Homo sapiens: one gene and its partner. The protein of the gene in region 2 purifies or fractionates together with the protein of the main gene of each other region. This does not show direct contact. Each region holds a gene or a part of one and is shown on either strand. Other genes may lie near its edges.

Region 1 (3,500 bases), on a different chromosome or scaffold from region 2:
AGCTCTTTTGACAAAAACTATAATTACTCGATAGCTTCCTAGATGCTCTAACCTATTTGGCACTTGATTATATTGTCTGCTCTTGTCCTCTAATTGTTTCACGTGGGTAAGTTGAGTCTCCTTAAATAGACAGTAATTTTCTCAAAGGCAGGGACCATAGCTTTGACATTTTTTGTAGCACCTGGCGATGCTGGGCACACAGCCTCTTGACTCTACAACAGTTTGAGCAGCAAGCCTCGTGCTTGGGCATAAGGGCTCTGTAGTCATTCAGATGTGGGTCTGAATCCCAACTCAGCGACTAACTTTCTAGTTGGGCAACTGTTGGCCTGACTTTCCTTATCTGTAATATGGACCTAATAATAATAATACCTACCCCCAGTGTTGTTTCAAGGATTGGATGAGATCACCTGTGGCTCTTATGACAGCCTAGATCCAGGGCAAGAGCTCAAAGCATTTTAAGTATGATTATTACTATTCAGCTGTTGGTAAAATATACCAGGGAAGGAGTGAAGCTACATTCTAAGTGTATCATCATTTTCTTCACATTTACTAGCATTTATATTTAATACCTCTAGTGTGGTAGGTGTTAAACATTTAAATAAAAGATATTATTTTCACTCCCTATGACCCCAAGATTTCATTTTTGGTGCAAGGCTACTGAGGGGTTCCTTTACATGGACAAAGGCATACATAAAACAATGAGAAAAATATGTCTCTAGTGGGGAAAGGGAAGTGACGGCTGTATTTTGTAAACTCTATGAAAAAGGGAACTGGTCTTTCCTTTTTCTTCTCTGTTTTGTTATACTCAGTTGGTGATTCAGAGCTTTGAATGGAATAGTTTCTTAGTTCTTATCATTATATTAAGGGCATTAGAATAACATCTATGATAGGTATATTTTAAATCCTAAGCCATGAAAAATTCAAGCATTTGACATTTGTTGGGGTGTATTTGGGGGAGCAAGGGGAAAATTTGCATCACGAGAACAATCCTGGCCAGAGTTGGCTCCTAGGGTAATCACAAACACATGGATTCAAAAATGTCACCCAGAACATATAAATCACAAGCCCGGCTTACCTTCTGTTGCTTTGTTGACAGCTAAAAGAGTACTCAGTACCTTGGAGAAATTGACCCCTGAATAAAGGTCATCAGGATCAAATATCTATGAGAAAGGAAAATTGAAACCGTAAGACACTACAAGTATTCAACTCAACAAACAAAACTATCAAAAGGCCACTTCCTCCAGCTCTCCGGAAAAAAAAAAAAAAAAAAAAAGTGTAGAAGCCAAGACACAAACCTCCATATACCTTTGGGAGAAATGAGAGCAGCAGTTGAGCCGCCTAATGACATGTGGCAGGCCATCAGTGAGTCAGAGCAAAGCAGTAATGGGAAATGAGAGCCAAGCTGAGAAGGCAGCGCCCACCAGGAAATAAACAGTGCATACTCAGACCCACTCTTCTGGCCTGAATGTATCAATAGTTTCAGCCCAGTTACAGGAAGCTCATATGCATGGGTTACAATCAATGCCCATCACCTACATAATGTCCTCGACAGTCCATAAATAAGGAGGTGGAGCCTTTTTGACATGGTTGCATCTGTACAGTTTATTAGCTGTGCCTAGTTGAGTCACTGTCAAAAGTGCCTTTTTCTCTGCTCTCCTTCCTCCCAACTGCCACCCGCTGCATCCCAACTGCCTAGGATCCCAATTCCATGTTGCCCAAACTTTCTGCCCAGGTCTGCCTTTTGCTCCCAGCTTCAGTTCTGTTTCTGCTGTTTGACCTTGCCCCTCTCAGCTCATCATGAATTCAAGTATTTGCCTGCCTGGGCCTATGGGCTCTTCCTGGCTTTAGATGACTTTCCCAAATATGACCTCTGGCCTGTCTAATACTACTCAACTCTTGGCAAAAAACACATTAAGGAAATACATTTCACTTTACCAGTCAACTGTCAATCTGATATGCTATTGTCCCCAGTGAAGATACCAATCAGATGTTGTTTTCAATACAATTTACCTGTTACCTTTGAAATGTAGTCAGTGTGTTAAAATATATTGAGTCTCAAATATGTATATTTGAAATTAGAAGTGTTCTCATGCACAGGTACAATCTATTAATTTGCCAGCCAACAATGTAAGTATGCATATCTGAAGGTAACCAGATGCCCACCTTCTGGATGGAAATGCCCCTTCTAAAAACATTTTGTTCCAGGATGTCTAGAAGTCTCTTAAAGAAAACAGATTGCATCATTTTTTCCCCAAATGTGGTGATGGAAATAAAATGTACCTTTTCATATGGGACATGATTGGTAATGGGCATAGGATTTTAAAGGGTCTGTCTTCCCATTAGGTAGAGCCATTTGTTCCATTTTTAAGCTGCATATTTTCTGGGAACCATATCAAGACAAATTTCTATCTTTTTTGTACATGTTCTTGAAAACCTATAATCTGTTTTTAGAGTGAAAATATATAATATCAATTTTTCACGTTTTGGGGGGTCAATAAAGATACATGCAAATGCAAACCTACACAAGTCTGCCTATTCTAGGATTCACTGCTTTATTCATTTAATCAATGAATATTTTGCATTCAAAGTTAAAATGACCAAAAAGCCCAGATGCATCTAAAAATGAGACATTAATATATTTCTGGTAAAAGAGTAATGCTAATATTACTAAAGAGTTAAACAACAACACATTCCAAATATATTTCTGAATGCTACAATATAAAATTCAAACTTTTCCAGAAATACATTGACAAGAGTTTTGTTTTAGTTTGTCAAAGCCTGGGTGAACAAGAGGCAATAGACTAGAGAGAGTGTCTAGTATCTCCGGGGATTTCAGACTTATTGAGTCTCCCTTAGAACTGATCAACTGGGAAAATGTTAATGACATGTATGCCAAAATAGTAGCAAAGCAAAAAAAATCACTTGTTTTTAGCCCATCAGTCCTAATGGGAGTGTGCATGTGTGTGTGCATGTGGATACATGTTTTGGGTGGGTGTGGTAGAGATGAGTAGATCTAAAATAATAAGCAGAAGTTAAATATTAGCAGAATAAGGCATGAGAGCAAAAGTTGTGATAAAAAACCTCTCCCTCTGGTTTTAGTTGTTCCTTATCCAGGGTTATTAAATGCCTATACATGGCAACACTGGTATTATTCACTTGTACAAGTACTTGACTGATTTTGAAAATAAATAAACTAATCAGAAAATGAAATGTGCATCAAGAAGAGTCATTGCATCTGCTTGAGGGAAGTTTCCTGAACTGTACTCGGTTCTCTTTTGAGAAAACCCCAATATACTCAAGTTTATCCATGGACACTGTTCTTGCTGCAAGCCTATTCTGAGGCACTAGAAACTACAGAGGAAGGAGTTGGAAGAAGCCTCTGGGAACTGCTAGAGAAAGCAACGCCTAAGCATTATTATTTCAGAGTAGCTGGAGAATCAGATACAACCACAAACACCCTTCACCACACTATACCTTCTAAGTCCTAAATTGAATGATAT
Region 2 (2,646 bases):
CTGCCAGGTGCAGGCCCAGGCCCATGACCCCACCTTTACTAAGCACAAGTACTTGCCACTGCCATCACTGCCAAGTAACTAGATGTCTCTGTTTCCCTGCCAATGATCCTGCAGGTTCTGCCCGGTCTGGTTATCTTCCTGTTCCTGTAGCATAGCCAGGCACTGCCAGTCACCTGTGCCCCCATTGCTGTCAGCAGATGTCTTGGGTCCTGAGTGTGGGTATCCACTTTTACCCGCTCACTGCCACCTGTGGACACTCTGTGTCTACCCTCTGAGTGGGAACATACTTCTAAGTTCCCTGCAGTCTCTGTCCTGTGGTAGACCATCTTTTTGTAAACTGCGAGCTTCCTCTTCCCTGTACCCTCTGCCCCAGTCGTGACCCCCTAAAAGTTAAGGGGTAGTTGGCACCTCCTTATTAATATGCCAGCCTAGATCCCCCCCGGTGGAGGGGCAAATGGCTGAATCCTTGTGTGATATTTTTTTCTTCGCTTGTTTATTTATTCATTTATTTAATTGTATTTATTCATTTACTAACTTTATGTGTTACCAATTAATTTTGTTTACCCATTCCTTTATCCATCCCTCCCCTCCTTTTCAGGTAAGGAGACAGGAGGAGTAGGAGGAGGCAGGGCCTCTCCATGCCAGCCTCTGTGGTCCTTGCCCAAACCCATCAGCGCAATACTTGAACCTTCTCCCAGGTAGGGGCAGGAGGAGCCACATGAGAGAGGGAGAAGGACCGCGTTTACCTTTAGAGTTTTGTTTTGTTTTTTCCTTCTGAGTTTGCTGTTGGTGCAGGAATAAGGGAAAGGCCCAAGGTATCCAAGCCTGGGGAAGGGCAGGCCAGCCAGCACCTCTGCCTTCTCAGGGACAAGAGTAGTCCTTTACCACCCTCACTCTGCCTGTCCCCTCTCCTACTCTACAGCATTAAAGACTGTGGGACCAGGACCCTAAGTCTCCTTTCCTTCTGGGTGGGGAGTTCTGGGGTTCTTGGTGTGTGGGAGAAGTTTTATAATTGCTTCCAAACAGCTGGGTTTAAATATAAAATAGACACACTCATTTTTGGCTCTTGGTTTGTGTGTGGGAACAACATGAGTGGGAAGGAATTTCTGGGTGCAGAAGGAAGCAGCCGGGGATTTGACCAAGCAGGGTATCAGGCAGGCATGAGAGCAGCCAGGACAGTGGTCTACAAGCCCAGCACGGAGGTTGTGAAGACAGTGACAAAATCAGCTGCCCAGCCCTCACTTCTCCCCAGCATCCATCCCACCCAGTTTTCCCAAAAGCGTGGACTTTCATGTAACTGTTAGTCACCATGAAGGGGTAGCCTGCCCTGGCACGAGATGCCCAGATTATCATGAGGGCTACATATGAGAATGGGAGACTGTGGACAAGATTGCCCTGTCTCCCCTCTCCCCCACCCCAAGGGATGGGATGCCTGGGGTTATGGAATTAACCAGCCAAACTGGGATTAAAGACTCAAGGCATCTTAGGGCCTGCTGAGCAGATTGGATGCAGGGAATGTACAATTGGTGCTGTTGGGTGGCCAGTGCATAATTGGACACAGACTTTCAGGACCTGTGTGAAATGGAGATGGGGAAGGGGCAACCTCGAAGGGGCTAGATGACAGTTATAGTCTCAGATAGGCCTCAGGTAGGGAGGGTCAGGAATAGAGAAGAGAGGACTTAAAGGTGGGGCTTTGGAGGGGTGTGGGCTGGAGAACGTAGACTGGGGAGGAAGGGATGGGGTACAAGGGTAGGCTGGGCCAGAGGAGGGAGGGGCGTCTCAGGATATGCTTAGCACCCGCATGATGTTGGTGTAGCCGGAGCCAGGTCGCCAGCCTGTCACCACAATCACCAGGTCTCCAACACGGAGGAAGCCACGGAGCTTTCCTGGGGGAGGGAAAGAAAACAAATCATTGGACAGGTGTGGTGGCTCACACCTGTAATCCCATCACTTTGGGAAGCCAAGGCAGGAGGATCACCTGAGGTCAGGAGTTTGAGACCAGCCTGGCCAACATGGTGAAACCTTGTCTCTACTGAAAATACAAAAATTAGCTGGGTGTGGTGGCGCATGCCTGTAATCCCAGCTACTAGGGAGGCTGAGGCAGGAGAATCGCTTGAACTCAGGAGGTAGAGGTTGCAGTGAGCCGAGATCACACCACTGCACTCCAGCCTGGGGACAGAGCAAGACTCCATCTCAAAATAATAATAATAATAATAATAATAATAATAATAATAATAATAATAATAATAAAAGAAGAAAAGAAAGAAAATTAGTCATTGAGGGACCAGGCCAGCCCTGTAACGAGAACCAGCCACCACCTTTCACCACATCAAGGCCATCCTGTAGGGAATGAGGCAGTGAAGTATGTCCCACGGGTGGCATGCAGGGAATGTGACCACTGCAGTATATTAAAGGTGTAAGAGATGCCAGCACGGTGGCTGACGCCTGTAATCCCAGCACTCTGGGAGTCCGAGGCGGGCGGATCACGTGGTCAAGACATTGAGACCATCCTGGCCAACATGGTGAAACCCTGTCTCTACTAAAAATACAAAAATTATCCAGGCGTGGTGGCGCATGCCTGTAGTCCCAGCTACTCAGGAGGCTGAGGTGGGAGAATCACTTGAACCCAGGAGGCAGAGATTGCAG

The links.
Region 1: the proteins of PKLR (region 2) and ARHGEF6 purify together in Homo sapiens (affinity purification with western blotting, with the first as the bait; one study listed by BioGRID). This does not show direct contact.

The regions. Positions count from the first base shown.
Region 1 is NC_000023.11:136,746,433-136,749,932, forward strand, and holds part of ARHGEF6 (rho guanine nucleotide exchange factor 6), read right to left. Parts: intron 1,161-3,500; coding exon 1,076-1,160; intron 1-1,075. UniProt on the Homo sapiens protein: Acts as a RAC1 guanine nucleotide exchange factor (GEF).
Region 2 is NC_000001.11:155,288,793-155,291,438, forward strand, and holds the end of PKLR (pyruvate kinase PKLR), read right to left. Parts: intron 1,887-2,646; coding exon 1,780-1,886; 3' UTR 501-1,779; downstream 1-500. UniProt on the Homo sapiens protein: Pyruvate kinase that catalyzes the conversion of phosphoenolpyruvate to pyruvate with the synthesis of ATP, and which plays a key role in glycolysis.